Regions from separate parts of the Homo sapiens genome. Here regions 2 and 3 are each linked to region 1. Evidence: fine-mapped expression QTL. A gene starts in region 1. Each other region holds a variant in brackets. All regions are shown on one strand. Distances are between the middles of the regions. Region 1 holds the start of CD1E (CD1e molecule). Region 2 has its middle 19 kb from the start of OR10T2. Region 3 has its middle 16 kb from the start of OR10K2.

Evidence for each region. PIP is the estimated chance that this variant, and not a neighbour inherited with it, causes the effect. A credible set is the group of variants that fine-mapping cannot tell apart.
Region 2: its variant is the best candidate, but not a certain one, in a credible set for the expression of CD1E in T cells (TOPMed, PIP 0.51).
Region 3: its variant is the best candidate, but not a certain one, in a credible set for the expression of CD1E in whole blood (INTERVAL, PIP 0.68).

Annotation. Positions count from the first base shown.
Region 1 is chr1:158,348,892-158,359,598 of GRCh38, reverse strand. CD1E (CD1e molecule) reads right to left here and starts at 5,705. Exons shown (of 6, transcript NM_030893.4): 1 at 5,553-5,705; 2 at 4,926-5,222; 3 at 4,030-4,299; 4 at 3,494-3,772; 5 at 3,008-3,101; 6 at 2,046-2,871. The coding sequence starts at 5,610. The coding sequence ends at 2,703.
Region 2 is chr1:158,375,375-158,386,081 of GRCh38, reverse strand. No RefSeq gene overlaps it. Among named protein-coding and RNA genes, the nearest start is that of OR10T2, 19 kb to the left of the region's middle. The variant CAATGTTTTCAAAG/G (reference allele first, on the strand shown) is at 5,923.
Region 3 is chr1:158,436,712-158,447,418 of GRCh38, reverse strand. It overlaps the pseudogene OR10T1P. Among named protein-coding and RNA genes, the nearest start is that of OR10K2, 16 kb to the right of the region's middle. The variant T/G (reference allele first, on the strand shown) is at 5,186.

The sequences.
Region 1 (10,707 bases):
CCTGGACCCCTGTTTCAGTTTATGTTGCTCCACTTATCAAGTCTCCCATATCCTCAGCTTATCTCATTCATTAGATAGAAGATAGCAGACAGGTTAGGTCATGGTTTATCCGGGGCATGTGGCTACTGCACTCTTCTGAGCTTTGGCCCCAGCATATTCTGATTCCACCAGTCCCAATGCATTCTCCCTCAAACAATGAATGCTATTTCTAGAGAAATTTAGCAATCATCAAGAATACCCCCTCCATCTCTTTTTCCAAAACTACCTACTTTCATTCTTACTGTATTTGTATTTACAACAGAATGCAGAAAGCTCCAGATGTGTACTGTCAGTAAAGCAGATTACCTTCTTTGTTTTATACCTGGTGGGAATGGAAATTGGTATACTTAGCTATTGAAAAAAACTACACTGGTCTTCTAGAATAAGTCCCATGTCCCAGAGTTTCAGCCAGAATGAAGTTGTTAATAGTATTAGGTAACATCTCTGTCTTGGGGGCAATTTAGCAACATATTTTGCTCCTAAGTACACCATCATCCAGGAGTTATAATGAAAATACCCAGCCCAAAGGTTTACCACAGTACAGGGAAGACCTAGAGCTTTTCTGACACTATTATGGACTGATATTTAAACTTCCTCAAGTCCTGTTGAGCTGATACTTCTTATAACATGATTATTTGTCCTCTGGCTCTTTTTTTAATCCTTCTATGTCATTTTATGGGGAAGAAGGATGTATATGTGCAGGCAGCCCAGATCTATTGTCTCCAGAGGTATAGCTTGTGCCTTTCGCACACCTTGTGCCAAAAACGGAAAGGTTCCTACTTGAACCTCTTCATTCTAATAGAGGTCCTCCCCTGTAGAGTTATACCACGTGATGGAACCCTGACCCCTTTCATCATTTGTTGCTCCAAACAACCCTTTAAGATTCTACCTTCCTCTCCCGATTCTAGTGGCCTGACTCTAGATAGACTGATTGGATGTGCCATATGGAAGGTGATGGACTCTCAACAGTGAAAAGGCTGGCCTCATACCTTGTTCATGAGTAAGAGTGCAGCCTGGATGTGTGATCATGGGACCCTTGCTGATTACTTGAAAATGCCCAGCATGAAGTTTATAACTTCCACTAAAAAATCTGCACAACCGGCTGGGCGCGGTGGCTCACGCCTGTAATCCCAGCACTTTGGGAGGCCAAGGGGGGTGGATCACGAGGTCAGGAGATCAAGACCATCCTGGCTAACATGGCGAAACCCCGTCTCTACTAAAAATTAAAAAAAAAATAGCCGGGAGTGGTGACAGGCGCCTGTAGTCCCAGCTACTGGGGAGGCTGAGGCAGGAGAACGGCATGAACCCCGGAGGTGGAGCTTGCAGTGATCTGACACCAGCCACTGCACTCCAGCCTGGCCAACAGATCGAGACTCCATCTCAAAAAAAAAGAAAAGAAATATGCACAATCTGCTCAATTATTCCATCCAAGGGAGGGGTTGACTGGACATGTATATAAACACTGCACTTCTACCAGATTCCTGCTCTCCAGTAGGCTCAACCAAATGTATCTCAAATGAAGTAAATTATGTAAATGTAAGAATCCATATAAAAACTAAAGAAAAACAAACTGTAAATAATAATAACAATAATAAGCCACACTAATAAATAAAAACAAGCATGTAGCTTAACTGGCATCCAATCACTCTTTTGCTTCATTGCCTTAGCTCTGGCTCAAACCCTATGTCCTCCTTCTAATTGCTCAAAATATGAATTTCTCCCATGAATATGCACATCCACAAAGACACACATAGATACACATGGCTCAGGGAAGTAGGAATGCCAGTTCAAACCTCTCCTCACTTTGACAGGAGATAGCCCTTATGTTATTATTTTCCTAAATATCCCTGAAGATTCATTAACATTCCAATCACTGTGGAGTCTGAGGCATTCATCTGCCTCCTTCACCTCTGGTGAGAGACAAAGGGAGAGAGGAAGAGTTTTAGCAAGAGCACAGTCAAATGACGCAGAGATATCAGAGAGGGAATGGAGTAAAACAACATCACTTGATCTAACAACAAATTTATTTCAGTCAGCATTTATTGAGAAATATTACATTCACACTGAATCAGCTATATAATTTGTGGGGTCAGTGAAAAATGAAAATACAATATCTCTTGTTTGAAAATGACTAAGGATTCCAAGATGACAACAGCAGAGCATTAAATCTAGCATGGGTTCTTGCAGAGCATACGATTCCATGTGTCTGCACAGGTCACATGCTTATGAAGCTGGCCCTGAATTCAGATAAGATTTTTGGTCATGAATACAGACACAAATACCTAAATCCTACTTTCAAGCAACTGAGATTAAAAAAAAAAAAAGAGCAAAAACCTAAATAACTACTGTTCAGAGTAGGAAGAGATGAATGTGCTTGTGAAGATCAGTTCAATTTGGGGAGTACAGAAGAGCTATCAATTGGGTGATCTCGGGAATCCATGAAAAAGAAGTATCTGGATTATAGTTTCAAAAATAAACAATGATGGATATGTAGCCAAAGCAGGAAAAAAAAAATCTCTGGAAGATGGGGAAAAAGTATTCCTAAAGGGGTCAGTATCTTTGCTAGTATAAACTGTTTAAATAAAAGCATGCTTCCCTTATGGGACATGGACGGTGTTTAAGAAGATGCAGACAAGGATTTTATGTATAAGGTAAAGCAAATGTCACCAGAGTTGGTTTAGGCGTGTCTTCCACTTCTTCAATACTCTGTTTTTGATCCACGATACTTGTGCCAAGCAGAACTGATGTCTTGAATTCTTGGTGTCCTGAGTGTTGGCTCCCATGAGAAAGACAGGGCTGGGTGTGTGGGGAGAAAGAATGTTCTTATTTGAACTGTGGGAAAAGAGGAGGATATTAATCTCAAAGAAAGGAAATAAAGGGGAAAGGCAGAGAAAAAAAAAAAGAAGATAGAGGAAAAAGGAATGAATTGATTACAGGCTGAAGAAACAAAGAACAAGAAAAAGCTCACCTCTGTTTTTTTAACCGTGAGTCAACTACAACCAATATGACCAGGGTAACTATCACAGTCAAACAGATCAGGATGAGAAAGATGGAATATCCACCTGGTTGGGGATAGAATAAGAATACCAACCCTAAAATACTCTATTCCACCAAGCTGAGATTTCCCATTTCACAAGGGTGGGACCTTCCTAGAATTTTCATCTGGGTTTTCCAAAGCCCTCATTTCAATTCCTCCTGATCCTTTGTCTGTGATCTCCTCCCAACCCTCTCCCACTAAATCACTAGTTCCTCCTCCTTTTTCTGTTAGTATGTCTAATTCTCTACTTCCATTTTCTTAAAATTTAACTACTGTCATACTCTATCCTTCTTTATTTTGATTGTCCCAGTTTTACCCTTCTTGTACCTAGCATTCCTACCCATTTCCTCAGCCCCACACTCAAAAGCCCCAGGGCTATTTTCATTATTTCCCAGCAGAGCCTCAGCTGTTTCTCACCCCAATGGATGATTAGATCATGGCCCCCTAGACTGCTGTGTTTCACCCGACAGGACAGGCCAGCTGCCTCCCCAGCCGCCACATCCAGGGTTGCTCGGAGATACCATGTCTCGTCAGCATTAGGCAGGACGTCCCCTCGCTGAGTGCCCCGCTGCTCCTGCTCACCCCGCATCCACATCACCCACACGGGCTTTGGGTAGAATCCTGAGACATGGCACACAAGCTGCAGACGGCCAGGGCCAGGACTGGGGCCACAGGACAGCCAGGCCTCTGGCTTCACTAGGAAGAAGAAGATAGAAAAAAAATGGAATTTTGAAGGGCACCCCAGGCCAGAGCTCAGAGACTCAGGTGCCTTTGTAATAATACTAAGAGTGATTTAGTAATCACTTCTTTCTCTTGTCTAAGAAACAGTCCTGAACCCACACATCTCATTCTCTAGTCTCTCACTATGTCTTTCAAAATGATGATGAGAGGCAAATTCAAATATGAGAGTTATAGTACTAGGAACAAGAGGGGAGAGAGAGAGTTGGGCTCACCTTTCCGTTTCAGTTCTGACTCCCCTGCTTCCATGAGCCCCGCTAGAAATCGAGGGCAGGTGTGACCAAGAAGGCTTTGCAGTATTTCCTTAATATCTAGGTAGCGATTGAGCACTTTACAGATGTTCTGGGCCCGGATCCCTGCTCCTGGAGATGGCTCCCAGGAAATTCCTTGGAAACTCAGGAAATCTGACCCTTGATATGCCATATTTAAGAAGATTTGTGGGGCATTCATTCTACAGCCAGCTAATATCTGGATCTCGAAGGGGTCTGAGAGTGGACAGGGAAGAGAGATCATTATGGAAAGAATGACAAGGAAGAAAAACAAACAATTTAGACAGTAAAGAGATTCAAGGGAAGAAAAATTTGCTGGGAAATCATATGGAGACTAGAGTTTACTGGCAAAGGGGAAGAAAATTTGTGGGAAGAAAATTTGAAGATAATAAAGATACTTTGAAATAACTAATGGGAAAGTGGTAGATGGGAAGGCTATCAGGAAGATAGGAGATTGGTCATAAATAATTCACGTGAAAGTGGTTAGGTACAGGCCAGTCCATGTCAACACTCAGGCAAAGGATAAAGAAGGGCAGAAAGAGGGTTGAGAAAGGCTGAGTCTGAGGGCAGGAATGAGGGGCAGAAGATCCAGAGGAGACAATCATTCCAAAGAGCCAGACATGAAGCTATATTCATGTTGAGATATGTACATGCAGGCCCTTTTGTGTATATGGTGGAGTGTGGGTGGTGGTGAAGGGTGAAGCAGAGGAGGGAGTGGGAGTCAGAGAGTGGGGAACAAGGTTAGTAAGGTTAAATGATGGTCAGAGTCTATATACTATCTTCCACTTTGGAAAATAGTTGGTGTTCCCAGGCAAATTATCAGCTTAGAGCAACGAACTTACATTCAAGCTGAAATTGACCAGCAGAAGCTTGCACTATCTGGATAAAACTATGGAAGTATAACTGGAACAGTGACTGTAAGTTTTTCAGCTCCTGCTTGCTGAAGTTTCCATGGGACCAGGGCTTCAGAAAGCGGATGGTGCCCAAGACAGTGTCCCAGCCATGAGTCTGCAGGTCACCCAGCCATCCTGAGCCCTCACTGTGTGCCCAGCTGTGGTTGGCAAAGGAGGAAGTTTGGAGCATGCGGAAGGACAGCTGCTCCTCTGCTGCTAGATGATAGGATTGTAGAGCCTGGGGAGCTGAGAGAGAGGGAAATGACAAGTAGAGAGAATGTAAAGGGATGGGAAAAGTGATGCCAAAGGGAAAAAAGGAACCCAGAGATGAGAGACAGTTAGGTAGCTTGTACATACTCCAATACCCTTTTCCTGTGGGGCCAGCTTCCTTTCTCCAAAATCAGAGACAAAAACTGAGACTGAGAGCAAGAATTCTCTGCCTGGAACTAGCCTGAAAGGCATATTCCAAGGGCATCCTAGAAGAGTACTGCTCCCTTCCCCCAGGACCTCCCCAGAGCTTCCTCTCAGCCCTCTGGTGCCCTACCATAGGTATCTTTCCACCTGCACTCTTCTTACCTGCTGTATTTTCCCCAGGACAGCAGAGACCCTCGAAGAGGAGGAACAGGAGCAGCATTGAAGCTCTGTTAAAGGAGGGATTCCTTGGCAGGACACCTGCCCTAATAATTCAGATATCAGTACCCCTCTCCACACCCTCTTGCACTCTCGTCTGACTTCCCTTGCTGTACAGACAGACAAACCTCTCCCTCTGCTGACTTCCCTGTCAGAGAAGCCACACTGCCTCGCTTTGCTGCAGCCTCCCACGGGGTTTTTCATTTCCCCTCTGCCTCTCTCACTGTCTGGCTCCAGATTTTCTCCCTGCTCTTGTGTACATCCTCCCAACCTCCCTAATTGCACTAACTGCTGGAAAACGAGTCCTGGCTTAAAACAAAGTCTGTGGTCTGGCTAGAAGATGGAGTAGCTTTTGGCCTTGTAGAAATCAAATCCATACTTGGCTTGTCAATAATCTAATCTGTGAGAAGTGATGGTAGTCACTCAGTGGTGCCTAGTGACCTATCCACCAGTCTCCCACTTCTACCTCTCTGTGATCCTCTCCTCCGCCTGTATCTCTTCACTCTGCTCTTGATCATGATCAGAAGACACTCAGCATCCTGGATGTAGCTGCATAATAAGCAGGCAACCCTCCATAATCCAACTCTCTGTGCTGCTGAAAAAGGAGCAGCAATGGCAATGCAGATTATCAGAAAATCTAAAGAAAGCTCCTTTTTTTCAGTTTCCCCAGTCAAGCCAACTGTCACTGTTAAAGTGGTCCATGAGTGGGCTTGACCTGGAAGTGGTGAGCTAGAGGGCAGGTAGATTTCACCCATGTTTTACAGGTGGCTCTGGAGGAAATACATAGGGGACTTGGATCCCCATCTCTACCCAAACGAAGAAAGCATGTCTGGAAGTCTGTGGGCCAGCTTTGCCCTGGGTATGAAGAAAGACTGAGGGCAGGCATGAAGCTCCTCATTAGTTCATGGCCTGAGAGCATTGGAGTCCCCTTGCTTGCGTTCGGTTAGAGAGCAGTTTGGGTGGACACAGGGAAGTACCTTTAGAGGACTGAAGTGTTCACTGGAGAATTAATTGAGTCTTTATTTTTGTTTCTTTTTCATTGATATTTGTTGTGACACTCTGAAGGCAGTTGAAATAACATTCCTTTGTTTGGTTTTTATATATTTGTTCAACTGACATTTATTCAGAGCCCACCTATGACCAAAAACAATTGCCAGGCCCTAAGATATCAGAGATAGACATCTTTGGGAAAAAATAAAACAAAATTCAACCCCAAACCTCTACTTTTCTTATACAGTAAATTTACTGAACGGTGGTCAGAATTATTGAAAAAGGTCCAAACCTAGTTTCATCTTATTATCATTTCTAAATTCTAAGTTAAAAGAAAGATAAAAAGTTTCCTTGTTTCCTGAGTAGAATATCTACATTTATTTTCAATACTCTTTCTGTGCTGGAGAGGTGCTGGAGAGGATGTGGAGAAATAGGAACACTTTTACACTGTTGGTGGGACTGTAAACTAGTTCAACCATTGTGGAAGTCAGGGTGGCGATTCCTCAGGGATCTAGAACTAGAAATACCATTTGACCCAGCCATCCCATTACTGGGTATATACACAAAGGATTATAAATCATGTTGCTATAAAGACACATGCACACGTATGTTTATTGTGGCACTATTCACAATAACAAAGACTTGGAACCAACCCAAATGTCCAACAATGATAGACTGGATTAAGAAAATGTGGCACATATACACCATGAAATACTATGCAGCCATAAAAAATGATGAGTTCATGTCCTTTGTAGGGACATGGATGAAGCTGGAAACCATCATTCTCAGCAAACTATCACAAGGACAAAAAACCAAACACCGCATGTTCTCACTCATAGGTGGGAATTGAACAATGAGAACACATGGACACAGGAAGAGGAACATCACACACCGGGGCCTGTTGTGGGGTGGGGGGAGGGGGGAGGGATAGCATTAAGAGATATACCTAATGTAAATGACGAGTTAATGGGTGCAGCACACCAACACGACACATGTATACATATGTAACAAACCTTCACGTTGTGCACATGTACCCTAGAACTTAAAGTATAATAATAAAAAATAAATAAATAAATAAAAATAATTAAAAAAAGAAAAAAAAACTGCAAACAAAAAAACAAAAGAAAAAGGTCCAAACCTAGTTTCATCTTATTATCATTTCTAAATTCTAAGGTTAAAGAAAGATTAAAAAAAGTTTCCTTGTTTCCTGAGTAGAATGTCTACATTTATTTTCAATACTCTTTCTTTTCTACAAATACATTCAAAGCTATAAGTTGCTATGTAAATCTATCTATAAATCGCTATGTAAATCCAAAATTGGTTTCATAATAAAATTATGAACAGTAAACAAAGATAAATATTCAAGAGAATATATAATAACCTACAAAAACAATAATACATAATAAAAAGATTGGAATGACCTATGCCAAACATCAATACTACAAGTAACTGTATTCCTTAGAATTTTTGTTTTGTTTTGTTTTTTCCTGAGACGGAGTCTTGCTGTCTTGCTCTGTTGCCCAGGCTGCAGTGCAGCCACAGGATCTCGGCTCATTGCAACCCCCGAATCCCTGGTTCAAACGACTCTCCTGCCTCAGCCTCCTGAGCAGCTGGGATTACAGGCAAGAGCCACCATGACCATCTATTTTTTGTATTTTTAGTAGAGACAGGGTTTCTTCATGTTGACCAAGACGGTCTCGATCTCCTGACCTCGTGATCCACCCGCCTCGGCCTCCCAAAGTGCTGAGATTACAGGCGTGAGCAACCGTGCCCCGGCCATTAGAATTTTTGAATCAGGCCAGGCACGGTGGCTCACACCCGTAATCCCAGCACTTTGGGAAGCCAAGGCAGGCGAATTCGAGACCAGCCTTGCCAACATGGCGAAACCCTGTCTCTACCAAAAAAAGTAAAAATTAGCCAGGTGCCATGATGTGTGCCTGTAATTCCAGCTACTCAGGAGGCTGAGGCAGGAGAATTGCTTGAGCCTAGGAGGTGGAGATTGCAGGGAACTGAGATTGTGCCACTGTACTACATCCTGGGCAGGAGAGTGTGACTCTGTTTCAAAAAAAAAAAAAAGAGGGAGAATTTTAAAATCATTTGCAAAGTAAAATAAAGCAAAGTATATTTAGAGAATAAAACAATGTTGTTATTCCACAAAAAATTGCACTTTTATGTAAGTAAAGATAACCACACCCTAGTTTTTAATTTTGAGGCTACAGAACTCACAGATAACTGCAAATTACTGAGCAAAGTAGAAATAATGTCTGACAGCAACCCCATAATCATTAACAAAATAATGAAATTCCTTCTAAATTAAAATTATCCAGAAGATAAATTCCAAAGAAAAAATATATATTAATTTTAATTTTTGTAACATTATATGGTACAATTATTTCCTTCCTGCTTTACAAAATTCCATCAGTGGGCCAGGCACAGTGGCTCACTCCTGTAATCCCAGCACTTTGGGAGGCCGAGGCAGGCAGATCAGGAGGTCAGGAGATCGAGACCATCCTGGCTAACACGGTGAAACCCCTCTCTACTAAAAATACAAAAAAATTAGCAGGGCGTGGTGGCACGTGCCTATGGTCCCAGCTATTCGAGAAGCTGAGGCAAGAGAATCGCTTGAACCTGGGAGGCAGAGGTTGCAGTGAGCCAAGATTGTGCCACTGCACTCCAGCCTGGGCAACAGAGAAAGACTCCGTCTCAAAAAAAAAAAAAAAAAAAATATTCCATCAGTGCCTAACCACATTTTTTACTAAAAATACTTAGTGTCTGTGGCCAGAGGTCTCTTTTAAAAAGAAATTCCCCCTCTTATGTTTTCCTGAGGCTGCCCCAGTCACATTCGCAGATCCCCTTTTGCCAAAACCAGAAAATTCTCTCAAAACATATTATAAGATGTGCCTTTGGACAACTTAATCTTTCTATGTAAGAAATTTATGGGAGATAACTCATTAAAATTGATTTAAAATAAAATTTTTGAGTACATTTGTACAAATGTAAGAAAATGTTCCATCTGCTAATTTTTTTTCAAAGAATTTAAATACGAGTTTTATTCTTTTGGCTTATTTTCAGGAAAGATTGCAATTTCTACATACTTATTTTCTTGTTTGTGTATACTTACATTTCTTTAACATTTATTCAAATATATTTTTCAGCTTTAGTGAGGTACAACCAACAAATAAAAATTGAGTATAAAAAAGTATTTATTGCCACTGAGCTGTACATTTTAAAATGGTGAAGATGATAAATTATATATTTATATTCTACCTTAATTTTTTTTAAATTGGGTATACTTAAGGTGCACAACATGATGTTATGATATATGTATATACTGTGAAGTAATCGCCACAGTCAAGTTATTACCATATCCATCACTTCACATAGTTACATTTTTTCTTTTTTTTTTCTTTTTGAGACGGATTCTCACTCTGTCACCCAGGCTGGAGTGCAGTGGCATTGAGAGGTGACAGCGTGCTGGCAGTCCTCACAGACCTTGCTTGCTCTCGGTGCCTCCTCTGCCTGGGCTCCCACTTTGGCAGCACTTGAGAAGCCTTTCAGCCCGCCGCTGCACTGTAGGAGCCCCTTTCTGGGCTGGCCAAGGCCGGAGCCGGCTCCCTCAGCTTGCAGGGAGGTGTGGAGGGAGAGGCGCGAGCGGGAACCTGGGCTGCGGGCGGTTCCAGCTGGAGTGCAGGGTGGGCGTGGGCTTGGCGGGCCTGCACTCGGAGCAGCCAGCCGGCCCTGCCGGCCCCGAGCAATGAGAGACTTAGCACCCGGGCCAGCGGCTGCGGAGGGTGTACTGGATCCCCCAGCAGTGCCAGCCCACCAGCGCTGTGCTTGATTTCTCACCAGGCCTTAGCTGCCTCCCCGTGGGGCAGGGCTCGGGACCTGCAGCCCGCCATGCCTGAGACTCCCACCCCCTCCATGGGCTCCTGTGCGGCCGGAGCCTCCCCGATGAGCGCAGCCCCCTGCTCCACGGCGCCCAGTCCCATCAACCACCCAAGGGCTGAGGAGTGCGGGTTCACGGCGGGGGACTGGCAGGCAGCTCCATCTGCAGCCCCAGTGCAGGATCCACTAGGTGAAGCCAGCTGGGATCCTGAGTCTGGTGGGAACG
Region 2 (10,707 bases), 26 kb before region 1:
ACCACAGTGAGATACCATCTCACACCAGTTAGAATGGTAATCATTAAAAAGTCAGGAAACAACAGGTGCTGGAGAGGATGTGGAGAAATAGGAACATTTTACACTGTTGGTGGGACTGTAAACTTGTGGAAGTCAGTGTGGCGATTCCTCAGGGATCTAGAACTAGAAATGCCATTTGACCCAGCCATCCCATTACTGGGTATATATCCAAAGGATTATAAATCATGCTGCTATAAAGACACATGCACACGTGTGTTTATTGTGGCACTATTCAGAATAGCAAAGACTTGGAACCAAGCCAAATGTCCAACAATGATAGACTGGATTAAGAAAATGTGGCACATATACACCATGGAATACCATGCAGCCATAAAAAATGATGAGTTCATGTCCCTTGTAGGGACATGGATGAAGCTGGAAACCATCATTCTCAGGAAACTATTGCAAGAACAGAAAACCAAACACTGCACGTTCTCACTCATAGGTGGGAATTGAACAATGAGAACACATGGACACAGTAAGGGGAACATCACACACTGGGGCCTGTTGTGGGGTGGGGGGCAGGGGGAGGATAGCATTAGGACATATACCTAATGTTAAATGACGAGTTAATGGAGTTAATGGGTGCAGCACACCAACATGGCATATGTATACATATGTAACTAACCTGCACGTTATGCATATGTACCCTAAAACTTAAAGTATAATAAAAAAAAAAGAAAAAAAATTTGCTATTTTACCCACAAATTCAACTCCAAAATTATCTCAGGTTTTTTCTTCTGAAAGTTCAGTATTTCCTTTAGAATATTTTTCTATGAATAAAGTTAAATTTTAGGAATTTAGGTAGCACTATATTTCCCCTGGCCACGCCAGAATGGGATGTCATTGAATACTATAAAGCACAGATTCCTGATGCTCTTCACTGCTTGACGTTCCATTTTTTATATTGCCATTTCTTTGCAGTATCCTTTGTACCTTACAGAGTAACTTTGCTCACTATGTCTTCTTTTTCAAATTAGGCTTAACATTTTCAAGTAGCACCTACACACAAGCACACACATACACTGGTCACCTGAAATTTAGGGAAGTCAGTCTTTTTATAACATTAAATTCAGTCATCCAAAAATGTGAACCATTTTTTCCATTTAAGATATTTTTATATGACAATAATTATTTAATAGTGATTAAAAAATATTTATTAAATTAATCTCTAGATAATTTATAGTTTGTATTGCTACTTTTTGTAATATCCATATTGGATTTTACTTTCTATTAATAGTTAATTACATAAAGAAATGCACTTCACTTTTGTTTGTTCATTTAGTGTCCAACAAATTTACTGAATTATTTTAGTGCCAATAGTTTATCCACTACTTGTATTTGACAACTTTCAAATGACGATACTGTCCTATAATAATGAACATTTTAATTTCTCTTCAAATCTTTATATTTCACTTGTTTTTCTTGTCTCCAAATATTTCATAGGATTTTCAATGGTATATTAGAGTTAATAGTAAAATAATAACCATTCTTGTCTAGTTCTTAATATTGAATGATAGGTATATAAAGAATCTTTAATAAATATGGCCTTTTCTATAAGTTTTTGTTTATAACATTTACCAATGATAAGAAAATTCGATTCTAATTTGCATTTGTTTAAAGTTCTTTTTTAAAATAACTCTGTGTTATAATGTATCAGGGCTTAGATTTCTAGTTGGTCCTAAAATGTCCCATTTATTATCTTTCTTAGTAAAGGAAATCCTCAATTTTTAATGGGCAAATGATTAACCTAAATAAAGATACTCCCCAGCTCCTTTGCAGCTAGAATGTAACTAAGATGTCTTGTAAGTGTGGAATGTAAGTGAAAATGTCATATGCCCCAGAAAATGTCTTTAAAGTGGTGGCGGTGGGGGAATAATATTTATCTTCTCTACCTCCCTAACTAAAATGTGGATGTGATGGCCAAAACACCAGTGGTCTCTTTTAAACCATGAGAAGGAATTCACATGTTAAGTCTCTCAGAAAATAAAATATCATAAACCTGAGCCCTAAAAATGTCATAAAGCTGTCCTACAAGTTATAAACTGCCCCTCTCTGAATGTATCTTTTTCATGGAAGGAAATGGACACATATTTTGTTTAAGTCAATATATGTAAATTTTCTATTATGTTCTCTGTTTAAAGGGTTCTCTCCAGGCAGATATGACAATATAGTATCCTTGATAGTCAGTCAAACTCTGGTCAGGTTAGAAGACAGAGCCTGTTATATAGTAAAATATGGAACTAAAATAATCCTAAGCCTTGGGCAGTATTCTGAAGGATGTTAGGTTCCTGGGCTTCTCTAATTCTCCTACAGCATCCCACAAGTATGAGTAGATATCTTTAGACTTCAGACTTTGATATACCTGTGATTTCACATATTAAAAATTATTTCAAGCATCTTTGATGCAGAACAATGTATTATCTAGTATAGATTTAGGTAGCAATATTTAAAGTTCTTGCCATTTCCTAATCTTCCTCTTGAATGGGAGCTCCTCAATAGGGTGTTTAAAAATGCTAACTAACAGCTGCTGGAAGTATTCCTTAATAGAATGATTGACTTGGTGAACAGCTGTCTCTATGTTGTAAATTCAAGATTAATTTACAAATACGATGTGCTACGTAAAATATTTTAAAGTAAATTTCAAACAATACTACACTAAATATAACAACAGGATATATTTTAAATAAATTATATGACAATAAAGTAGAATATCATACACTCACTAAACACAAAGGAGAAGAAAAATTCTTCAAAATATTGCACAGGTAATACCTTTTAATTTTCTTCAGATACATTTTTATTGTAAATCAATCTTAATTTGCACCTACCCAAATATTGAATAATCACATCTGCTTATTAAGTAGACGGGCGGAATTCACCCAGAAGAAAGGGATCTTTGTCTAACTTTGAGAGTCCAACTACTCTTTTGAATTGCTAGCAATAATACATAAAATTCAAATTCATTCATTTTAAATGTAAAGATCAAATTTTCACAAGTGGATACAGTCATGTAACCAACACCACATTCAAGATATTTCAATTTCATCACTCCAAAAGTTTCCATGCACACTTAGCACTCAAACCTTTCCCCCATCCATGACCCCAGGCAAGCACTAATCTTCTGTCACTATAACATGTCTTTTTTTATAATTTCATATAAATAAAAATATGCATTGCAGTATAGAAATACATTATGCAGTCTTGTGTCTGAGTTATTTCACTTAGCATAATGCTCTTGTTAGTCATCCATTTTGTTGAGTATATTAATAGCGTTTTTTCCCCCATCTTTTTATGGCTGAGAAGTACTCTATTGTATGATTATGACACAATTTATTTCTGAATTCACCAGTCAAAGGACATTTGGATTGCTCCCAGTTTGGGGCTCTTATAAATAAGGCTGCTGAGAATATTCACATACAAGTCTTTGTGAAGAAAATTGTCTTTATTTCTCTTAAGTAAATAACTAGGAATGAGATTACTAGGTTACATGTATTCACATTTACAATAAATCAATCAATAACGTACTAGGTATGTTTAACTTTGTAAAATACTACCAAACTGTTTTCAAAACTGTTTCAAAAATAGCTGTACCGTTTTGCAATTTTATCAGTGATGTACAAAAGCTCCTTTTGTTCCACATCCTCTTCAACACTTGGTGCTTCAATAGACTGAATTTTTGTCTCTTCCCAAAGTTTGTATTTTGAAATCCTAACCTTCAATGTGATGGTGTTAGGAGCTGGGGCCTTTGGGAGGGAATTAGGTCGTAAGAGTGGAGCCCTCATTAACAAGATTAGTGTCCTTATAAAGGGGACCACCAGAGCCCCTCTCACGTAGTATTACACTATGTGAAGATACTACAAGAAGATGGCAGTCTGCAGCAAAGAAGAGGACCCTCACCAGAACCTGACTAGGCTGCTACTCGGATCTGGAAATTCCAGTCTCTAGAACTCTGGGAGATAAATTTCTATATTTTGTAAGCCACCCAGTATTTGATTATTTGTTGTAGCAGCCTGCACTAAGACAGTACTTTCAGGGTTTTTTTATTATTATTATTTTAAGCATTCTAGCGGTTGTGTAGTAATGCCTCATTGTGGTTTCAATTAGCATTTGACTAATGATGATGAGCATCTTTTCATGAACTTATGAGCCACTTACATATCTTCTTTGATAAAAAGTGTATTCAAATATTTTGCTCTGTTTTTGTTATTGAATTGTTTTTCCTGTTATCGAGATATAGGAGTTTTTTAAAGAATATTCCTCGGCCACTAATCCTTTATGAGATATATATGTTTTACAAATATTTTCTCCCCATCCCTGCTCTGCATTTTCTGCTTCTCAATAGTGTTTTCTGAAGATCAAATTTTAATGGCTCTTATTTTTTTGTGTACTATCTAAAAAAATCTTTGCTTAACTCAGTCACTCGAATTTTTCTATGTTTTCCTTTAGAAAGTTTATAATTTCATCTATTACCCTTAAGTCTATGACTCATCTTAATTTTCTTTACGCTTCTATCGTTTTGGAAAACATTGTGATGAATTAGCATTATTTCTTCTTATACATTTAGTAGAATTCAACAATAAAGCCATCTGGACATATAGTTTCATTGTGTTAGGTATTTCAATTATAAATTCACGTTTTTCAAAGATATATAAGGTTATGTAGATTATCTATATATTTTTGAGTGACTCTAGGTTGTTTCTTTTAATAAATTTCTTTAATCTAAGTTGCTGAACTTACCAGCATAAAGTTGTTTTATTACTTTTATCATATTTATGAAATCTGCATGAATAGTACAATCTCCTCCCTTTCATTCCTGATATTAGTAACTTGTGTCTTCTCTTTTTTGCCTGGATAGAGATGTAACTGTATTAATGATTTTTCAAAAGAGTTATCTTTTGATTTAAATAATTCTTTTCTAATTTTTTACATCTTTAACTCATTTATTTCCCCTGTTGTTATTTTTTTCTTTCCACTTGTTTTGGATTTAATATGTTCTTCTTTTTTCCAGTTATTTAAGGTAGAAGCTTAGCTTATTAATTTTACACATTGCTTTTTAAAATTTTAATTATTTAAAGCTATAATTTGTGCTCTGTGCATTGCATTAACTGCATCTCACAAATTGTATATGTTGTATTTTCAATTTCTTCTAACTCAAAATACTTTCCAGTTTTTATTTTAATTTTCTTTGACTCAGCGGTTATTTGCATTTCCAAATATATGGAGTTTTCCAGAACATTTCCTATTTTTGTGTTCTTGCTTAATTGTATTATGGTGACAGAACATTCTTCATATGATTTCAATCCTTTTAAATATATTAAGGTTTGTTTAATGACTCGGAATATAGACTTTCTTGGTGATGTTCCTTGTGCTATTGAAAAGATTATGCTTTCTGCTGTTGTTAGATTGAAGGTTTATGTCAACTAGGTCAAGTTGGTTGGTAATGTGGTTCAGGTCTCTAGATCTCAGAGATTTCTTATCTCCTTTCTGTAATCCCTCTACAATTTCTAACAAAACATTTGGCACCCAATCAGAAGCAACAACTGGATTATTAGAGATTAACCCAGTATCTTGACAGTAAAAACATTGCATGGCTTTTTTACCGCAGCATAAATACCACATGTTCATAGGGCCTGTATTTCTACTCTCAGAAAAATGAAAGGGTTTTTTTTTTTGTTTGTATTTGTTTGTAAGATAAAGATAATGTACCAGGTGGCCTTATTTTATGAATAAGCAAATAAAGACCTACAGAGAGTTATACTATTTCTTAAAACAAGACCAAGGTGAGGACCAAATAAACAGTTTTCTTTTATTCCAAATGATCACCTTTTAAATGGAAAGTTGAGAATCCCTACCCCTAATTCAAAATTAAGCAGCCCTCAA[CAATGTTTTCAAAG/G]AAGAACACATATATAAGTCTACATTTCTGGCACGGTTCACTTCAAACATTTACTAATTTCAGGCAAATTTAGATAGAGAAATTAAGAGAGAAAGCTGTTATGTTTTCCGAATCAAGATGATAGGCAACTTTCTATGAGATAAAAATTATTTTAGAATAAAGTTCCATGTAGCTAAGAGATTAATCCAGACACGAAAAGTTTATTTCCTGGGTGAGGGATACACTGATTGGGCGATGATTATTTTAGAATTGTAAATCTAGCCACCATATTTTTTGTTTCTACATATGTATGAGGTACATGTGAAATTTTGTTACATGTATAGAATGCATAGTAATCAAGTCCATTGATGGATGTTTAGGTTGATTCCATATCTTAGCTATTGTGAATAATGCTGCAATAAACATGCAAGTTCAGGTATCCCTTTGACATATTAGTTTCTATTCCTCTGAGTAGATACCCAGTAGTGGGATTTCTAGGTCAAACAGTAATTTTATTTTTATTTTTTGAGAAATCTTCATATTGTTTTCATAGTGTGCGTGCTAGTTTACATTCCCACCAGCAGTATATGAGAGTTCCTTTTTTTCCATATCTTTGTCAACATCTGTTTTTGTTTATTTGTTTGTTTTACTTTTTAATAATAGCCATTCTGAATGGGATAAGATTGTGTCCATTACGGTTTTGATTTGCATTTATCTGGTGATTAGTGACATTGAGCATTTTTTTCAAATCATATTAGCCATTTGTATGGTCTTCTGTATTTTGGGCAGCCTCTATTTGATTTTATTTTGCTTTAATCTCTATTATTTTTGTTCTGCTAATTTAGGGTTTAATTAGATCTCTTTTGGTTCTTTGTGTTGTGTTGCTTGATTAATTTGTAATATTTCTACTCTTTTGATTTAGACATTTCTTGCTATAAACTTCTCTCAACACTACTTTTGCTGTCCCCCACAGGTTTTGTATTTAGGGTGTTGATCACCTGAATATAAAACATTTTTATAGCATTTTTGTTACAAAAATGTTAAGTATAAGCACTCTACCCTGCCATCAAACATTGAATTTGTTTCTTCTATCTTACTGTTATGTTTGCACCCTTTAGAACTCCTCCCTTTATCCTGCTTCTTCCTCCAGCTCACCCTTCCTAGTCTCTCATCAATCTTTCCCCTCTCCATCTCAATGTGATCAAATTTTTTAGTGATATAAGTGATATAAGTGATAACATGTGATATTTGTCTTTTTGTGCCTGAATTATTTCACTTAGGATGATCTCCAGTTCCATCCATCTTGCTGCAAATGACATAATATCATTCTTTTTCAGGGCCAAACAGTATTCCATTTTGTGTATACATATCACATTTTCTTTATCCATTCATCCATTGATGGATGTTTAGGTTGATTCCATATCTTAGCTATTGTGAATAATGCTGCAAGAAACATGCAAGTTCATGTATCCCTTTGATATATTGGTTTCTATTCCTCTGGGTAGATACCCATAGTGGGATTTCTAGATCGAACAGTAATTCTATTGTTATTTTTTGAGAAATCTTCATATTGTTTTCATAGCTCGAGTGCTAGTTTACATTCCCACCAGCAGTATATGAGAGTTCCTTTTTCTCCATATCTTTGTCAACATCTGTTTTTTATTTGTTTGTTTTACTTCTTAATAATAGCAATTCTGAATGGGATAAGATTGTGTCCACTGCGGTTTTGATTTGCATTTTTCTGGTGATTGGTGATGTTAAACTTTTTTTTCAAATCCTGTTACCCATTTGTATGTCTTCTTTTGAAAAATGTCTATTCATGTTCTTTGCCCACTTTTTCATGAGATTATTTTCTTTTGCCTGTTGAGTTGTTTGAGTTCCTTGTATATTCTGGATATTAGTCCCCTGCCAGATGAGTAGATTGCAAATATTTTCTCCCATTTAACAGATTGTCTCTACACTTTGTTATTTCTTTTTCTATGCAGAATCTCTTTAGTTTAATATAGTCCCATGTGTCTATTTTTATTTTTGTCACCTGTGCATTTAAGGTCTTAGTGATAAATTATTTGCCTAAACCAATGTACAGGAGAGTTTTCTCTAGTATTTTTATAGTTTTGGGGTTTATGTTTAAGTCTTTAATCCCCATCTTGAGTTGTTTTAATAAGATGAGAGACAGTGATCCAGTTTTATTTTTCCACATGTGGCTATCCAATTTTCTCAGCACCATTTATTGAATAGGGTGTCTTTTCCCCAATGTAAGTTCTTGTCAGGTTTGTAGAAGATTAGTTTGCTATTAACATATGCCTTTAGTTCTGAGTTTTTTTATTAGCTCCACTGGTCTGTGTTTATATATTTATAAAAATTTCATGCTGTTTTTCATTATGATAGCCTTGTGATACATTTTGAAGTCACATAATGTGATGCCTCCAGTCAGGCTTGCTTCAGCAATTTAGGCTCTTTTTTGGATCCATATGAATGTTAGGATTGTTTTCTCTGATACTATAAAGAATGACATTTGTATTTTCACAAAGATTGCATTGAATCTGTAGATTATTTGGGGCAATATGGTTATTTTAAGGATATTAATCCTTCTGATATGTGAAAATAGGATATTTTTCAATTTGTTTGTGTCACCTACAATTTCTTTCATTAGCGTTTTAGAGTTTTCACTGTAGAGATCTTTCACCTTCTTGGCTAAAGTTATTTGTTAAGTATTTCATTGTTTTTCTAGCTATTGTAAATGGGGTGGCTTTCTTGATTTCTTTCTTGGTTAAATCATTATTGGTGCATAGAAATGCTACTAATTTCATATCTTCATTTTGTATCCTGCGTTATTACTGAATGTATTTACCAAACTAATGAGTTTCTTGGTGGAGTCTTTAAGTTTTTCCAGATATAAGATCATATTAAGAGCAAAGAGAAACAATTTGACTTCCTCTTTTCCATTTTGAATACCTTTTACTTCTTTTCCTTGCCTGATTTTCTCTGGCTAGGGCCTCTAGTACTACGTTGAATAGGAGTTGTGAAAATGGGCATCATTGTCTTGTTCAAGTTCTTGGAATGTTTTCAACTTTTCTTCATTCAATATGATGTTACCTGTGAGTTTGTCATATACGGCTTTTATTATTTTGGGGTAGTTCCTTCTATGCTTGGTTTGTAGAGAGTTTCTATCATAAAAGAGTGTTGAATTTTATCATATGATTTCTCTGTATCTACTGGGATGATTGTATGGTTTTCAGTTTGTTGATATGTTGTATCATGTTTATTCAGTTGTGTATGTTGAACTAACTTTGCATCTCTGATATAAATCCCACTTGATAGCAGTGGAATTTATTACCCACTTTTGATTACCTTTTGGATGTGCTATTGAGTTTTGTTTGCTAGTTTTGTTCTTGAGAATTTTTATGACTATGTTCATTAGAGATATTGGTCTATAGTTTTGTTTTTTGTTGTATCCTTTTCTAGTTTGGGTATCAGGGAGATGCTGGCCTCATTGAATGACTAGGGAGAATTCTCTCCTCTTCAATTTTTTGGAATAATGGCAGAAATTGGTTTTAGTTCTTCTTTTTACATTTGGCACAATTCAGCTGCGAATCCATGCAATTCAGTTTTTCTTTGTTGGAAGATCTTTTATTCCTGATTCAATCTACTACTCATTATTGATCTACTCTGGTTTACTATTTCTTCCTGATTCAATCTCAGTTGCCTGTGTATTTCCAGGAATTCTCTATTTCCTCTAGGTTTTCCTGTTTGTCAGCATATAGATGTTCATAATAATCTCTGATGATCTTTTGTATTTTTGTGATATTCATTTTAATGTCTCCATTTTCATTTTTGATTTTGTTTCTTTGAATCTTCTCTCTTCTTTTCCTGGTTAGTCTATCTAGTGGTTTACCCATTTTGCTTATCTTTTCAAAGAAGCAATTTTTCATTTCATTGGTCTTCTGTATTTTGGGCAGCCTCTATTTGATTTTATTTTGCTTTAATCTCTATTATTTTTGTTCTGCTAATTTGGGGTTTAATTAGATCTTTTTTAGTTCTCTGTGTTGTGTTGCTTGATTAATTTGTAATATTTCTACTCTTTTGATTTGGACATTTCTTGCTATAAACTTCCCTCAATACTACTTTTGCTGTGCCCCACAGGTTTTGGTATGTTCTGTTTCCATTTTCAGTTATTTCAAGAAATTTTTTTATTTCCATGTTAATTTATTCATTGACCCAGTGGTCATTCAGGAGCATGTTCTTTAATTTTCGTGTATTTGTATAGTTTCCAAAGCTTATCTTAGTATTGATTTCTGGTTTCATTCCAACGTGGCATGAGAAGATGCTTGATATAATTTTGATTATTTTTAATTTGTTGAGACTTGTTTTGTGGTCTAATATATGGTCTACCATGGAGAATATTCCATGTGCTAATGAAAAGAACCTGTATTCTGCAGCAGTCAGGTGACCTGTTCTGTAAACATCTCTTAGGCCCATTGGCCTAAAGTCTGATGTAAAGCTATTGTTTCTTTGTTGATTTTCTTGCTATATGATATATTTAATGCTGAGAGTCAGGGGTTGAAGTTTTCACTATTATTGTATTGCACTAAATCTCTCCCTTCTGATTTAGTAATATTGGCTTTATGGATCTGGGTGATCCAATGTTGCATGCACATATTTTCAAAATTGTTATATCTTCTTGCTGGATTGATTATCATTATATTATTTGTCTTTTTCTAGTGTTCTTGACTAAAAGTTTGTTTTACTGGATATAAGAATACCTTCTCCTACTAGTATTTGGTTTCCATTTG
Region 3 (10,707 bases), 88 kb before region 1:
GAGGGATAACAAAAGTAGGAAAGAAAATGTAATGTTATGTGTAGAAGCAGAGAGACAAAGTTAGTTATGTTTGATGCTGCAGCCAACCAGCTTGTCTACAGCTGAGGGGCAGATGCGTGACCTAATGTTGAGGACAAACACACCTAAGATGGTGATGAGGACAGAGAAAATTCCAGAAACATTGCCATAAGCTATGTATTAAATAATTCGTTAGAAGGAAAATAAGACCCATAAAGATATATGATCATTTTATTTCAATAACTAAAGGCTAGCTGTCATTCATACAAATAATTTAACATTATTGTGAGTATCTGCAGAGGACAAATCAAGAACAATGGGTGACTATTTCAAGGAGGCATAGTTCAGCTCAGAAGTAGCCAAATAAACTATCTAGCAAGGGAACAACAGCCTGTTTTGGAAGTGAGTGACTTCTTAAAATTTGTCCTTGACTGTGGACGTTGGACAATACTTCCTACATTGCTATAAAGAGGTTCACAGAATTGTATGCAGGTTGAGTTAGAAGATTTCTGATCTTTTTTCCAAAATGAAAATAATCTGATTGTCTAAGTCTGATATGAAGGTTTTAGCATTTATTTGATCTCCAAATCAAACCACAGATCTTCTTACAGATAATGATGAAAGTTCTTCTTAGAACATTATGGAGGCAATGGAGATTGAGGCATAGGCCAGAAGAGTGGAGATCTCAGCCCAAGCCTCATAATGCTCTGAGGTTAATTTGAGCTTTATTAGGTTCTTAATCTCAGATTCCCATGCACTGATGACAAGGGAAACCCCAATATGTGAGCCATCCCAAAGTCTTCACAATTGATCATGGGTAAATAGAATCTGAATACTTTTAAGTAGATTAAAATAGTTCCCTACATCTGAACAAGCATTATTTGAGTTATGTATATGAGAGACTGGGTACATCACTTTTTACTTGTTTTGTTTGTTTTTCTGAATCAGATTTTTATAAGGTATTAGCAAAGATAGGTGATTTTTAAGGACTGTTACTGTCATGTGGGTAAGCAAATGGTTTAATCTTATTGAGCCTCATTTTCTTCTTCCATAAAATGAGAGTACTTAATGAGATGAGGTCTAAATCACATTTTGATTTTACAGTATGAACTTTCTAGGCACATAGGAATACAGAGAATGGAAATAACTTACAAAAATAAAAATAAATAATTTCAGATATCTTTGAATTGGGATATGTCACTATTCATGTCCCTTGACCCTTCCCTATACTCTGATCTATGTACTTAATGTGTGTTATGTATTTTTTCAGACCAGTATTATCAGCTTTTTACAGAAACGCGAAATGAGTATCTCTAGGGTCATTTCACTTTTATCAAATTCTCTCCTTCTCAATTTCAGGTTACCTAAGTCTAATTACACTGACCAATGAAAAGACAGAACCAGAGCATGATCACCGAGTTCATCCTTATAGGCTTCTCAAACCTGGGGGATCTGCAGATCCTTCTCTTCTTTATCTTCCTATTAGTCTACCTGACCACTCTGATGGCCAACACCACCATCATGACAGTCATTCACCTGGACAGGGCTTTGCACACTCCTATGTACTTCTTCCTCTTTGTCCTTTCATGTTCTGAAACCTGCTACACCTTGGTCATTGTACCCAAAATGCTTACCAACCTGCTATCCGCAATTCCAACTATTTCTTTCTCTGGATGTGTGGTCCAGCTCTATTTATTTGTGGGCTTGGCTTGTACCAACTGTTTTCTCATTGCTGTGATGGGCTACGATCGCTATGTTGCCATCTGCAACCCCCTTAACTACACACTCATTGTCAGCTGAGCCACCTGCATGCAGCTGGTTCTAGCCTCCAGCTTTTGTGGCTTCCTGACTTCTGTGATTGTCAATATCCTGGTGTTCAGTGTGCTCCTCTGTGCCTCCAATCGGATCAACCACTTTTTCTGTGACATTTCCCCTGTCATAAAACTGGGCTGCACAGACACCAACCTGAAGGAGATGGTCATCTTTTTCCTCAGCATTCTGGTATTGCTGGTTCCCCTTGTGTTGATATTCATCTCCTACATCTTCATAGTTTCCACCATCCTCAAGATCTCCTCAGTGGAAGGACAGTGCAAAGCCTTCGCCACCTGTGCTTCCCACCTCACAGTGGTCGTCGTCCACTATGGCTGTGCTTCCTTTATCTACTTGAGGCCCACATCCCTGTACTCTTCAGATAAGGACCGGCTCGTGGCAGTGACTTATACTGTGATTACTCCACTACTCAACCCCCTTGTCTATACACTGAGAAATAAAGAAGTAAAGATGGCTCTGAGAAAGGTTCTGGGTAGATGCTTAAATTCCAAAACTGTATGAGTGGGCTGATAAGGCAGTAAATTACATTCATGAAAGTTTCCTAGGTAGCACTTCAGATCTATAAACAGATTCGTCCTTTTCTTAAGACTCCTTGACAAAAAAAAAAAAAAAAAAGAGAGAGAGAGAGAAAAGAAAAGAAATAAGGACTTTAGGTGACCTTGATTGTTTATATCAAAAAATTTTTTTCATGTTAGCCTGTATCCACTGCAAAAGTTATACCAATTGGTCTCCAGAAAATTATGTGAACATTGAAACTTTCAATAACACAAGCTACATTGTTTTTATGCATTACAAGTGTTTGCTTTGTCAGATCAAAACTACAAATGCTGCATTATCTTTTTGAGAATTCCCAGATTGTTGATACTCCTTTTACAGTGAAAGAAACAACATATTCTAGAAATAATTTACTGCAGTTATTTCTTTATTAAACTTATATATACATACACATACCTACATATGTGTGTATATATATATGAATGTATATATATATACATGTGTGTGTATATTTATATAAAGTTTAACCCACTTCCCATTTAGGAAAAAAAAAAGTGCAGTTCTGTGCCATTATGGAATTCTCAGGGCAAACGGGAAATGGGTTAAAGCAAATGGTTTAATCTTTTTGAGCCTCATTTTGTTCTTCCATAAAATGACAATATTCAATGAGATGAGCTCACATCATAGTTTGACTTTACTGTACAAACCTTCTTTGCACATAGTAATACAAAGAATATAAATAACTTGCAAAAATAAAGATAAATTACTTCAGTTATCTTTAAATTGGGGTATGTCACTATTCATGTCTCCTGATTCTTCTCTATCCCCTGATCTACATATGCATATATATACACACATATATTATATATATATATATGTTTAAAAAGAAATATATGCAGTAAATTGTTTCTAAATAATGAACATAAATTTGCTTCTGGAAAAATGAGGGGGGTGGTGGTAAAGTTCTAAGAGGTCGATGATAGAATAGAAAACACAGACTTTGGAGTCACAAAGACCTGGATTTTAATCTTTATTTGGATCATTTTCCAGCTAAGCCCCTTGTGCCAGGTTTAACTTCTTTTATTTTTAGTTATTTATTATGTAACAAAGGACCTTTAATACCTCCTCAGTGGGCCACTGCAAAATCTAGTTAAATTAATAGATGTAAAACAATTCCATGCTTGCCTGAGAGAAGGTATTGAAAAATTGCTTCTGTTTTTACTTCTCTTTCATTTTCCTTTCTTTATTCTATAATCTAGGGTTAGACTCTATGTCAGATAAAGTGTAAAAGTAAGTTGACCATTCAAGAGCCCTGCACTGTTTATGCACCTGCTACCATATGCAAGGCATTGAAACAAGCACTGTAGTGAGTACAATGAAGAGTAAAGCACAGTCCCTTCTTTTCCTCATGCCTCACTGAAAGAAAGGGTCAAATTTTAGTCACCCAATATAGGTGCATCATATACATTTGAATGAGTTTACTGTGGCTTTTGCTAAAGCTGTGTTTCAATAAAACAATGGAATTATGTTAATATCAAAAAAATTTCATTTCTTAGCTTTTCACTTGAGCAACATGCAGTTTAATAACTCTTGCTTGGGAAATAGATTATGTGGATTTAGAAGGAGGTTTCTTCACATACTTGTAAGTATGAAACAATAACTTAAACACCATACATTGAAAGTGATCAAAATAGGGTTGCTGTAAGAATTAAATGGGGAAATTCCTTAATTAACACACAGTTTGAAACGTATGTATTTGATATATTTTAATTATTATTTGTATGCTATATGTAATGTTGAGAGATAAAGAAAGACATTAGAATGCAGAATATAAGGAGAAGGAAGAAGAAAAAAAGCTAGGATTGAAAGAAGGGAGAAAAAGAAAACAAATAAATAAAAGAGTGATAGAAGCCTTAGTTGAATTTACTAAATGCTAACATGATTTTTTTTTACTACCTGGAAAAAAATGCTACCTTTAGCATTTTTTACGTGCCACACCCAATAGTTTGGCAATGAGTGTCCCAAGGATAAAACTGAGTTGCTAATGTATTCTTAGTTTATCGGAATATGATTATTAAAACCTCCTTAGGACATTTCTTTGATTAAGACAGCTAAATTAGGACACGATCATTTATTTTAGATTTTTTTTAATTCAAGGATTTGAGCTTTGTTTGTTGACACCACCCATTGATGAGAGTAGTTTGGGGTTTCTGTGATTGTTTCTACTATAGGAAAGGTTAAGCTGAAGAGAGTGAGAGGCAACTTTCATCTTCATTCCCTGTCACCTCAGAATTCCCAGAACACCACTTTTCCTCAAGTCCACCTACTCAACACACACCCAGACAAACACACATCTGTAAAATGTACTTCCCTCTGATTTGCATATGATATATATACTTCTTTGTTTGCTACAGATGTGAGAGTGTTCATAAATTTGTTTTAAACCCTGAATGCTTAGATGGCTTGCCATTTTTTTCAGAGAATAACACAACTGGTACTGAATTTGCATTTGAGGATGACCATGATGGTGATGGTGATATTAATGATAGCTACACCTGGCGTATACTAGGCTTTCAAAATCATTTTTAAATTAATAAATGAAAATAAATGTTGGGTAATCCAAGGTTCTCTAATTTATCTGTAGATAAAAATTATCACAAAACTGAATGGACTTTTTTCTGCATCTTTAATGGTTCTTTTAATACTGATTTAATTTAATAGTGATTGAAGACTTATTCTAAAGCAGGTAGGGTGTCCTGTGCCTGTTCTCCCAGTTACTCCAGAGGCTCAAACAGGAAAGGTTGCTTGAGCCCAGAAGTTCAAGGCCAGCCTGGGCAACACA[T/G]TACGATCCATCTCTAAAAAAGGAAGACAGAAAATACTTATTCTATGTTCTAATATAGTCTATGTTCTTCTTCATTTATTTATCTAACAATTACCTACTTGGCATGTATCACTCACTAGACACGGTGAGAGTAAATAAGACAAAGAAAGGAAAAATATTGCAGACAAATAGAGACAATTACATTGCGGTGTAATAAATAATTAACTGTGATTCAGAGGCTGAATATAGTATAAGGACCTAACTGAATTGTGGAGAATCGAGAAAGACTTCTCAGAGTAAGTGACACTTAAATTTAAACTTGAAAAACAAGTAAAAACTAAGAAGTTAAAGAGTGTTTCAGGCACTTTGCATTGTGTACACAGATGCAAAGAAAGAACTCATCGCCTAGATGAGTAAATTTAAGTGTCTCATGTGCCTGAAAATAGACCTCTGGAGTGACAGAAGTTAATAAAGTTAAGGCAGAAAATGTAAACCTATTGGGAAGAGCTTTTGTAGGTTAAGTTAAAGAGGTCAGATTGGGCCAGGTGCCATGGCTCACGCCTGAAATCTCAGCATGTCGGAAGGCGGAGGTGGGTGGATCACTTGAGCCCAGGAGTTTGAGACCAGGTTGGGCAACATGGAGAAACCCTGTCTGTAGAAAGAATGTGGTGGCACATGCATGTAATCCCAGCTACTGGGTGGCAATGAGGAGGAAGGATCACGTGGTTCCAGGAGGTCGAGGCGGCAGTGAGCTGAGAAGGCACCACTGCATTCCAGCCTGGGTGATAGAGACGCTGTCTCAAAAACAAAACAAAACAAAACAGGTCAGATTGAATTCATTGATGTGAAAAAGTAGGTTTTATCCAACTGTGGCTTGGCTTAATATATTTTACATGTTAAAGTTACCATATATATAAAACAAAAAAAAGAAAAATAGATTGACTTTTTGATGATTGCTAGATGCATCAACAGATAGATGGATGATAGGCCATACAGTGGATAGGTACAGATTATAAATTCTATATAGAATATTATTGTATCAATACATGCAGAAAAATATCTCTAATTTAAACATGCAAATATAACTGAGAAAACATAAAACTGAAAATAGTAGAAACTGTCTTAATTTGAGAGTATCTTTGAAAATCTATAATAAATAAACTTACTGATGAAATAGAGGAAATTTTTTCATTAATATCAGCAATGAGACAATAGTGCCCATTATCTCTGCTTCTATTCAATATTTTATTAGAGTTATTTCTTAATATAAGGAAAACACACAAAAGAGTAGTAGTTTGTTTGTAACATAGAAATTACCTAATAATATTCTGATTGTTTTCTTCTTCTTCTTTTTTTTTTTTTTTTTTTTGTTTGAAGACAGAGTTTCACTCTTGATGCCCAGACTGGAGTGCAATGGCGCAATCTCAGTTCACAGCAACTTCCCCCTCCCAGGTTCAAGTGATTCTCCTGCCTCAGCCTCCCAAGTAACTGGGATTACAGGTGCCTGACACCACACCAAGCTTATTTTTGTATTTTTAGTAGAGACCAGGTTTCACCATGTTGGCCTGGATGGTCTCAAACTCCTGACCTCAGGTGATCCACCCACCTTGGCCTCCCAAAGTGCTGGGATTACTGGTGTGAGCCACCACACCCCACCGCTGATTGTTTTCTTTGCTGTTCAGAAACCATTTAGTTCCATGTAGTCCCAGTTTCTTATTTTTGCTTTCATTGTCTTTACTTTTGGTATCGTATCCAAAATACCACTGCCATAGCCAATGTCATGGAACTTTTCCCTATCTTTTCTTCTAGAAGTTTTACAGTTTATGCCCTTAATTAAGTCTGACATTTAAGCCTTTAATCAATTTTGAGTTGATTTTTTGTGTATAGTATAAAAGTCAGTTTTCATTATTTTGCATGTGGAGATCTCATATTCCTAGCACCATTTTTTGAAGAGACTGCCCTTTCCCCATTGTGTATTCTTCACACCCTTGACAAAGATCAATTAACCACAGATGTCTGGATTTATTTCTGGGCTTTCTATTGTGTTTCAGTGATGAATGTGTCTGCTTTTATGAGAGTACCACACAGTTTTGACTACTATAGCTTTATAATATAAATGGAAATCAGGAAGAGTGATTCTTCCAGCTTTGTTCTTTTTGCTCAAGATTTCTTTAGCTATTTAGAATCTTTTTCTGGTTCCATATAAATTTTAGAATTCTTTTTCTATTTCTGTGAAAAATGCCATTGGAATTTTGATAACAGTTTCATTGAATCTGTAGATCACTTTGGGTAATATGGACATTTTGACAATATTAATTCTTCCAGTCCATAAGCATAGGATGTCTTTCCATTTGTTTTTTCTTCCTCAATTTTTTCCATCAATGTTTTATACATTTCAGTTTATAGATTTTTAATCTCCTTAAATTTATTTTTAAATATTGCATTCTTCTTATGGCATTTTTAATTTTTTTCTCAGATAGTTTGCTGTTAATATACAGAAATGCAACTGATTTTTAACATTTCTTTTTTCTTAATTTTAGATAAATGTAGTACATGTGCAGGTTTGTTACATGAGTATACTGTGTGATGCTGAGCTTTGGAGTACAGATCCCATCACCCAGCTAGTGAGCATAGTAATCAATAGGAAGTTTTTAAACTCATGACCCCCCTTTTCACTTCCTCCTCTAGTAGTTTACAGTGAATATTGATCCCATGTTTGGATATGTAGCTCTCAGTGAATATTGTTCCATGTTATGTCCATGTGTGTTCAATATTTTAGCTCCCACTTATAAGAGAGAACATGCAGTATTTGGTTTTCTGTTCCTAAATTAATTTGCTTAGGATTATGACTTCTAGCTGCATCTATGTTGTTGCAAAGGACATCTATCATGCAAAGGATATTATTTCCTTCTATTTGTGGCTGCATAGCATTCTATGGTGTATATGTACCACATTTTCTTTATCCAGTTCAACACTGATAGACATTTAGGTTTAGTCCATGTCTTTGCTATTGTGAATAGCATGGCAATGAACATGCAAGTTCATGTGTCTTTTTGGTAGAATGACTTACATATGTCGATTTTGTACCTTGCAACTTTACTGAATTCATTTTTTGATATTAATAGTTTTCTGGTGAAGTTTTTATTTTCTAGATATAATACTATGTAATTTTCAAACAGAAATAATTTTACTTCTTTATTTCTGATTTGGATGACTTTTATTGCTTTTCCTTCCGTAATTGCTCTGGCTAAGACTTTCAGCACTAGGTTGAGTAGAACTGACGAGAGTGGACATCCTTGTCTTGTTCCAGATTTAGAAGAAAAGGTTTTATTATGCAGTATAATGTTAGCTGTGAGCTTGCCATATATGACCTATATTGTACTAAGGTACATTTCTTCTATCCTTAATTTGTTAAGGACACAGAAAAAGAAATACTCAACAAGATGAAAAGGCAAACTACAGAAGGAGAAAACATATTTGTAATCCATAAATCTGATACAGGGTTAATATCCAAAATACATAAGGAACTCATATCGCTCTACAGAAATACAAATAAACAATGTCATTTTAAAATGGCTAAAGGATCTGAGTAGACATATTTTTCCAAAGAAGACAAACAAATGGCCAAAAGGTATATGAAATGGTGTTCAACATGACTAATCAGGGAAATGCAGATGACCACAATGATATGTTACCTCACGCCTGTTAGAATGGCTATTGTCAAAAAATCAAAAGATAACAAGTGTTGGAAAGAATGCAAAAAAAAGGGAACCCCTGTATATTGTTAGTGGCAAAGTAAATTGGTATAGCCATTAAAGAAAACAGTATAGAATGTCCTCAAAAAATTAAAAATAAAACCACCATATGATGTAGCAGTACCACTTCTGAGTATATATCCAATGAAAATAAAATCACTATCTCAAAGAGAGATCGGAATTCCCATGTTCATTGCAACATTATTTACAATAGTTAAGATATGAAACAATGAAATGTCCTTCAATAGACAAAGGGCTAAAGTAGATGTGGTATATACTTTTATACAATAGAATACCATTCAGCCTTTAAAAAGAAGGAAATTCTGCCATTTACAACAACGTGGATGAACCTAGAGGACATTTTGCTAAGTACAATAAATCAAGCAAAGAAAGATAAATACTGCATGATCTAACTTATATGTGGAATCTAAAATATTCAAACTTATAAGAGCAGAGTAGAAGGGTGGTTGCTAGAGGCAAGGAGGTGGGGGAAATGAGAACATTTTGGTCAAAAGTTACGAACTTTCAGTTATAAGATACATAAGCTTTAGATATTTTAATGTACAGAATGTTGACTACGGTCAATAATGTATTTTATACTTGAAAAGTTGTTGACAGTAAGTATTCTCACCACACACACATGAAAAAAAGGTAACTATGTGAGGTGACAGGTATATTGATTAGTTTGATTGTACCAATTATTGAAAAATGTATTTGTATATCAAAACTTCACATTGGATATGAAATATATATATATATAATTTCTGTCAATTGTACCTTAATAAATACATAAACAGTACAGAGATACAAAAACAAAATTACATGAGAATAGGCAGATAAATATAAGAATTAAAAATGAAATGTATTTACATGATTGCCTTATACAAAGCTGGTAATACAAAAATAAATTCTATTTCTGTATGTCAGCAGAAAGAATTACTATGCCTAGGAATACGAAATATGAAAATACAAGAAGTCAAAGAGTACAGAAGTAATCTTTTGTTTAAAAAGTCAAAGAGAACAAAAGTCTAAGTCAAATACCACATGTTCTTACTTATAAGTGACAGCTAAACAATAGGTAAACATGTTCATCAAAAGACATCTTCAACTGAGTGAAAATGAAATTTACAAAGTCACACAAAATATTTGAAGTACATGTAATCAATAAAGTATTGATATCATATAAAATATTTTGGATCAATAATAAAAATGAATATCCCTATAGTGCACAAAATATCAAACAAGACTTTCAAGAAAGAGGAAATTCAGGTGGCTGGTAAACATGAAAATGTGCTCAATGTCACTAATATCATGAAAAGGAAAGTCTAATTACACATACTCATCAGAATTTCTCAAATAAAAATGAGTTGCAATAGCAAATGTTACAGATGAGAAGCAACTGGAATTTCCATACAATGCTGGCATGAGTGTAAATTTATACAGCCACTTTGAAAAACTATTTGGCAGAGAATAGTATACTAGAACATGTATATACTTTTATTTACCTTTTGCTGTGTAACACACCACTTCCAAACACAAGTTAAAGTCCTTGCTTGCCTTTTTGTGGCTGTTCTATTTCACTTAGGAAAAGAGAAGTTGTTTAATAGGTGCAGAGTTTCTGATTTGCAAGATGAACAAGTTCTGGAGATCTATTTTACAGTAATAGGAATATACTTGACACTACTGAACTTTACACTTAAAATGGTTGAGTTGGTGAATTTTACGTTATTTGGTTTTTAACCACATTTTTAAATTTTTTTTATTTGCTTTTGTGTCTGCAAGTCAATT